Linked DNA regions of Homo sapiens. The protein of the gene in region 1 interacts with the protein of each later gene in a biochemical or structural test. Each region holds a gene or a part of one and is shown on either strand. Other genes may lie near its edges.

Region 1 (3,744 bases):
TTGGCCTCCCAAAGTGCTGGGATTACAGGTGTGAGCCACTGTGCCCGGCCAATTTCTTCTTTTTTTAAATAATTTTTTGTTTTCTATTTTTTTATTTTCATTTAATTTAATTTTATTTTTTCTGAGATGGGGTCTCACTCTGTCGCCCAGGCTGGAGTGCAGTGGCACGATCTCAGCTCACTGCAACCTCTGTCTCCCAGGTTCAAGCGATTCTACTGTCTCAGTCTCCTGAGTAGCTGGGATTATAGGTGCACAATGCCATGCCTGGCTAATTTCTTGTATTTTAGTAGAGATGGAGTTTCACCAAGTTGCCCAGACTGGTCTCGAACCCCTGAGCTCAGGCAATCCACCCGCCTTGGCCTCCCTAAGTGCCAGGATAACAGGCATGAGCCACCGTGCCCGGCCTATTTTTATTTTTTTATTTTTGTTTGAGATGGTGTCTCGCCCTGTTGCCCAAGCCGGAGTGCAGTGGTGCCATCTTGGCTCACTGCAACCTCTGCCTTCCCAGGTTCAAGCGATTCTCCTGCCTCAGCCTCCTGAGTAGCTGGGATTGCAGGCATGCACTACCATGCCCAGCTCATTTTTGTATTTTTAGTAGAGATGGGGTTTCACCATGTTGGCCGGGCTGGTCTTGAACTCCTGACCTCAAGCGATCTGCCTGCCTTGGCCTCCCAAAGTGCTGGGATTACAGGTATGAGCCACTGTGCCTGCCCCCTCCACTTTAAATTTTTCTTCTTCTTCTTCTTCTTTTTTTCTTGAGAATGAGTCTTACTCTGTCGCCCAGGATAGAGTGCAGTGGCACAATCTCAGCTCATTGCAACCTGCGCCTCCTGGGTTCAAACGATTCTCCTCCCTCAGCCTCCTGAGTAGCTGAGATTACAGTAGCCCGAAACCACACCCAGCTAATTTTTGTATTTTCAGTAGAGACCGGGTTTCACCATGTTGGCCAGGCTGGTCTCGAACTCCTCACCTCGTGATCCGCCTGCCTCGGCCTCCCAAAGTGCTGGGATTACAGGCAGGACCCACTGTGCCCAGCCCCATTAATGCAAATATTCTATCACCTTTTTTTTTTTTGAGACGGAGTCTTGCTCTGTCTCCCAGGCTGGAGTGCATTGGCATGATCTCGGCTCACTGCAGCCTCCACCTCCCAGGTTCAAGTGATTCTCCTGCCTCAGCCTCCTGAATACCTGGGATTACAAGTGTGTGACACCACGCCCAGCTAATTTTTGTATTTTTAGAGACAGGGTTTCACCATGTTGGCCAGGCCGGTCTTGAACTCCTGACCTCAGGTGATCTACCCATCTCAGCCCCAAAAAGTGCTGGGATTACATGCATGAGCCACCGCGCCTGGCCCTATCATCTATGTTTGAATCCTAGATACTAACTGGCTGTGTAACCTTGGAAAAATAGATCAACTCCTCTGTGCCTCAGTTTCCTCCTCTGTAAAATAGGTGTAATAATAGCCAACTGTTAGGGAATTAAATTTGTGGAAATAATAAGAGAAGGTACATGAAGTACTGACCACAGTGCAAGTGTTCAATATGTTCATTATTGTTATTACTGCATTACAGAACTCTATTGTTCTAATAATAACAGTGACAATTTGCTGAGCCCTTAATATGTGCCAGGGGCTAAGCCATGTGTTTTATCACATCCTGTGAAGTGGTGAGGGTGAACATTATTATTATTATTATTTAGAAATAGGGTATCGCCATATTGCCCAGTTTGGAGTGCAGTGTCACTATTATAGATCACTGTAGCCTTGGCTTCTTGGGCTCAAGCCATCTTCCTGCCTCAGCCTCCTAAATAGCTGGGACTACGGGTGGCAACCACCACATTTGGCTAATTTTTAAATTTTTTTAAAAGACAGTTTCTGGCTCTGCTGCCCAGGCTGGAGTGCAGTGGCGCTATCTTGGCTCACTGCAACCTCCACTTCACAGGCTCAAGCCATCCTCACACCTCAGCCTCCTGAGTAGCTGGGATTACAGGCACGTTGCCACCACATCCAGCTATTTTTTTTTTTTTTTTTTTTTTGAGACAGAGTTTCGCTTTTGTTGCCCAGGCTGGAGTGCAATGGCATGATCTTGGCTCACCACAACCTCCGCCTCCCGGGTTCAAGCGCTTCTCCTGCCTCAGCCTCCCGAGTAGCTGGGATTACAGGCATACTCCACCTCGCCTGGAGAATTTTGTATTTTTATTAGAGACAGCGTTCTCCATGTTGGTCAGGCTGATCTCGAACTCCCAACCTCAGGTGATCCGCCCGCCTCTGCCTCCCAAAGTGCTGGGATTATAGGTGTGAGCCACCGTGCCTGGCCAATTTTTGTATTTTTTTGTAGAGACAGGGTTTCACCATGTTGCCCAGGCTTGTCTCGAACTCCTGGGCTCAAGCAATCCGCCCTCCTCAGCCTCTCAAAGTGTTGGGATTATAGGCCTGAGCCACTGCGCCTGGCTTATTTTTATTTTTATAGAGATGAAATCTTGCTATGTTGCCCAGGCTGGTCTCCAACCCCTGGGCTCAAGCGATTCTCCTGCCTCTGCCTCCCAAAGTGCTGGGATTACAGGCATGAGCCACTGTGCCTAGGCCTTATCATTGTTATTATGTCCACTTTAAAGACAGAGAAATTGAGGACAAGAGAGGGGACAGGACTCAAAGCCAGTCACTGTTAGAAATGAGACTTGATCCTAGACCTAACCTACCTCTCCCTATGTCCAGGCCTCACCTTCCCCGATGGCGCAGGTACCAGGGGAAGTGGACAACATGGAGGGCCTGCCTGCTCCTAACAACAACCCTGCTGCCCGCTGGGAGAGTCCGGATCGGGGCTGGGAGCGGGAGCAGCCGGCTGCGTCCACCGCAGCGGCCTCGCTCTTTGAGTGCTCCCGGATCAAGGCCTTGGCAGGTACCTGGAGGAGGGCTGGGGTGGGATGAGGAGGAGGGGGAAGGGGGAAGGGTGCCCGAGAACCTTGGTGGCTGGGAGGGTGGGAAAAGAGACCAGCACTGTCCAATAGAACTTTCCATGATGGTGGAAATAGTCTATATCCATAATGTACCATATAATAATCACTAGTCTCTGTGACTTTTGAATGCTAGAAATGTGGCCAGTGCTATGTGACAGCCTTTGAGTTTTAAATTTTATTTAGTTTTAATTAAATTTATTTATATATATATTTTTTGAGACAGAGTCTTATTCTGTTGCCCCGGCTGGGGTGTAGTGGTGAGATCTTGGGTCACTGCAATCTCCACCTCACCGGCTCAAGCCATCCTCCTACCTCAGCCCCCTGACTAGCTGGGACTACAGGTGCCCGCCACCACACCCGGCTAATTCTTTTTGTATTTTTAGTAGACACCGGGTTTCACTGTGTTTGCCAGGCTGGTTTTGAACTTCTGATCTTAAGTGATCCACTTGCTTTGGCTTCCCAAAGTGCTGGGATTACAGGCATGAGCCACTGCACCTGGCCTGGTGTTTTTTTTTTTTTTTTTTTTGAGACGGAGTTTCGCTCTTGTTGCCCAGGCTGGAGTGCAGTGGCGCGATCTCGGCTCACCGCAACCTCCACCTCCCAGGTTCAAGCGATTCTCCTGCCTCAGCCTCCCTAGTAGCTGGGATTACAGGCATGTGCCACCACGCCCAGCTAATTTTGTATTTTTACTAGAGACGGGGTTTCTCCATGTTGGTCAGGCTGGTCTCGAACTCCCAACCTCAGGTGATCCACATGTCTCGGCCTCCCAAAGTGCTGAGATTACAGGCA
Region 2 (3,744 bases), on another chromosome or scaffold:
AGAGGCCACACGGGCTTGTAAACCCTGGCGGGGCTGGCCCCTGGTCATTGAAGTGCTGGCTCTCACAATGGACACACATGCACGGTCAGTGCCCAGCACCCAGACAACACCTACAGGCTCAGGCTGGCCCCAACCCGGACATGTGGCCCTCGGTGACCGCTGGCTGCACTCACCCAAGGCTGCTGGCGTCTGCCCGTCCCGCATGTGCCCACCCAGCTCCTCTCCCTGGGATTCCGCAGTGGAGAAGCGGGAAGGTCCCTGTGCTGGAGACTTCTCTGCCTGGCTCCCCCTCCCAGCTCCGCGGTGCCCCTCCGCCCTCCCTTCTCTGTCCGCCCACTTACCTTTAATTAGAAATGCCAGGAGAGCCATTTTTGGGGAGTTTTTTTGCCAGAAAGACATTCCCCCCCAGGGGCGGAAGGAAGGAGGAGACAGACTGGCTCTGAGGCTGGGAGAGGGCTCCCCGGGAGAGCCGGTTGGGGGGGGGCTCAGAGGGTTGGCAGGGAGGGGGGATTCCAGCAAGTGGGCACCTGTGTGCCCTTGAGTGCCTGAATAAGACAGGGGATGCTGGGGGGAGCTGAGGGCTGTGAGTGGGGGGTATGAGTGTGTATGTGGGAGCTATGAGTGGGGGGTATGAGTGTGTATGTGGGAGCTATGAGTGGGGGGTATGAGTGTGTGTGGGGGCTGTGAGTGAGGGCATGAGTGTGTGGGGTGGGGTTAGAGTGGGGGCTATGAGTGTGTATGTGGGGGTGTGAGTGTGCAGCATGTGTGTGTCTGAGAGAGGGAAAGGGCAGCTGGCAGCAGGAACAAGATGTCTTGATTGTCAGCGATGATGTCCTCATGGCCCTCTGGCTGTGGGGAATGGTGTGTGTCACCCCTGCCTGGGTAACATCAGAGGACCTGAGACCCATGCCTATCCAGCCAGCACTGGAGTAACTCAGGAAGGGCGTCCCTACCCCCGCCAGGTTGCCAGGGAGGCAGAAGGGACCTCCCTCCCGAGGGAGTCTCGGCTTCCGGAGCCCCGCTCCTTATATGGTGCTTGGCTTCCCTCTGCCTCTCCTGATGGCACTGTGCTGCCAGCACCGGCCCCCCTCCCTCTCCCTCCTCGCCTCTCCTCCCTCCCCTTCTCCTTTCCCTCCTTCCACCTCCCTCCCTGTCTCCCTCTCTCCTCCCCTCTTCCATCCCCTTAGAAGTCTTGGAGCCTCTGGCCAGGTTCTTGATATAGCCAGGGTCTTCAGGGCCCAATTCCCTTCACTGGGGGCTAAATGTCCCCTCCATGTCCTCCAAACCCCAGCCCCCCAGGTAGCAGCTGCCAGATTTCCCTGGAAACACAGAAAAGTATTGGGCCTCACCAGAGACCTGCGTATGGGGGCATGGGGCAGCCCTGTCCAGTCACTGCCACGTGGGCCCCTGTCACCCATGCACACCAACGCCAGGGCCAGGCAGAGCGAGCCTCTGCCTGGCTGTGCGTCCCTCACACAGAGCCCAAGACCTGGACTCAGGACCCGGGCAGGAGTGAGTGGGAGCTCAAAGCCACATCTGGGAGCTCACATGGAGACTTGCTGAGCCCCTGGGCACAGAGGCTGATGGTGAGGGTCCTTCCCGGGCTCAGCTGCACATCCTGCAGAGCTGGGTGGGCGGGGTCAGGGGCAGTGAGGACCCAGGAGAGCAGTGGCCAGCGCCAGCCCCCTCCAGCCCCGCAAAGAGAGAGGCGAGTGGAGAGGAGGAAGGCCACCTTGGGACCCTGGGAGGCAGCAGATGACAGCCCGCCCAGCGCCCGGGAGGGGGCGTGGGAGGGGCGCCCAGTGCCCGGCTCAGTCCCTCGGTCCCCGCAGGCTGAATGAGCCCCGCCGTCCGGGGTGGGAGGTACGGAGCGGAGGGATTAGTCATCCTGGCCCCGCCATGTGTGCAGGGGGTGGGACCTCCCGTCCCTTGCCGCCCGGGAGCCGAGTGGGCGCAGGGCGGGGCCTGCAGGGGCGCGGGCGGGGCGCTGGCGGGGAGCCTGCGGCTGGGCCAATGAGAAACCGGGCTCGGCGAGCCGGCCGCCCACGGGCCTCGCTGGCTGCATAAAGAGCCGGCGGCCAGGACTCAGCGCAGAGCTCGGGCGCGGCGTCCTCCCTCCGCAGCAGCCGAGCCGGACCTGCCTCCCCGGGCGTGCTCCGCCGGCCCCGCCGCCGGCCCGCAGCGACAGACAGGCGCTCCCCGCAGCTCCGCACGGGACCCAGGCCGCCGGACCCCAGCGCCGGACCACCCTCTGTCCGCCCCGAGGAGTTTGCCGCCTGCCGGAGCACCTGCGCACAGATGGAGCTGGACCACCGGACCAGCGGCGGGCTCCACGCCTACCCCGGGCCGCGGGGCGGGCAGGTGGCCAAGCCCAACGTGATCCTGCAGATCGGGAAGTGCCGGGCCGAGATGCTGGAGCACGTGCGGCGGACGCACCGGCACCTGCTGGCCGAGGTGTCCAAGCAGGTGGAGCGCGAGCTGAAGGGGCTGCACCGGTCGGTCGGGAAGCTGGAGAGCAACCTGGACGGCTACGTGCCCACGAGCGACTCGCAGCGCTGGAAGAAGTCCATCAAGGCCTGCCTGTGCCGCTGCCAGGAGACCATCGCCAACCTGGAGCGCTGGGTCAAGCGCGAGATGCACGTGTGGCGCGAGGTGTTCTACCGCCTGGAGCGCTGGGCCGACCGCCTGGAGTCCACGGGCGGCAAGTACCCGGTGGGCAGCGAGTCAGCCCGCCACACCGTTTCCGTGGGCGTGGGGGGTCCCGAGAGCTACTGCCACGAGGCAGACGGCTACGACTACACCGTCAGCCCCTACGCCATCACCCCGCCCCCAGCCGCTGGCGAGCTGCCCGGGCAGGAGCCCGCCGAGGCCCAGCAGTACCAGCCGTGGGTCCCCGGCGAGGACGGGCAGCCCAGCCCCGGCGTGGACACGCAGATCTTCGAGGACCCTCGAGAGTTCCTGAGCCACCTAGAGGAGTACTTGCGGCAGGTGGGCGGCTCTGAGGAGTACTGGCTGTCCCAGATCCAGAATCACATGAACGGGCCGGCCAAGAAGTGGTGGGAGTTCAAGCAGGGCTCCGTGAAGAACTGGGTGGAGTTCAAGAAGGAGTTCCTGCAGTACAGCGAGGGCACGCTGTCCCGAGAGGCCATCCAGCGCGAGCTGGACCTGCCGCAGAAGCAGGGCGAGCCGCTGGACCAGTTCCTGTGGCGCAAGCGGGACCTGTACCAGACGCTCTACGTGGACGCGGACGAGGAGGAGATCATCCAGTACGTGGTGGGCACCCTGCAGCCCAAGCTCAAGCGTTTCCTGCGCCACCCCCTGCCCAAGACCCTGGAGCAGCTCATCCAGAGGGGCATGGAGGTGCAGGATGACCTGGAGCAGGCGGCCGAGCCGGCCGGCCCCCACCTCCCGGTGGAGGATGAGGCGGAGACCCTCACGCCCGCCCCCAACAGCGAGTCCGTGGCCAGTGACCGGACCCAGCCCGAGTAGAGGGCATCCCGGAGCCCCCAGCCTGCCCACTACATCCAGCCTGTGGCTTTGCCCACCAGGACTTTTGAGCTGGGGCTGACTCCTGCAGGGGAAGCCCTGGTCCAGCTGGGTGCCCCCTCGAGCTCCGGGCGGACTCGCACACACTCGTGTCATCCAGATGTGAGCACCGCACCCAGCGGCAAAGAGCCCTCCCCCCTGCAGGGCTCCACCCATCACCCTCCCTCCGTCTGTCTTTCCGGCCTGGACCCCACCCTC

Evidence for each region. The genes of interacting proteins can lie anywhere in the genome.
Region 2: the proteins of SPTBN4 (region 1) and ARC form a complex in vitro, tested with the Homo sapiens proteins (one study listed by BioGRID).

The regions. Positions count from the first base shown.
Region 1 is NC_000019.10:40,469,894-40,473,637, forward strand, and holds part of SPTBN4 (spectrin beta chain, non-erythrocytic 4), read left to right. Parts: intron 1-2,713; 5' UTR 2,714-2,728; coding exon 2,729-2,897; intron 2,898-3,744.
Region 2 is NC_000008.11:142,612,826-142,616,569, reverse strand, and holds the start of ARC (activity-regulated cytoskeleton-associated protein), read left to right. Parts: upstream 1-2,090; 5' UTR 2,091-2,298; coding exon 2,299-3,489; 3' UTR 3,490-3,744.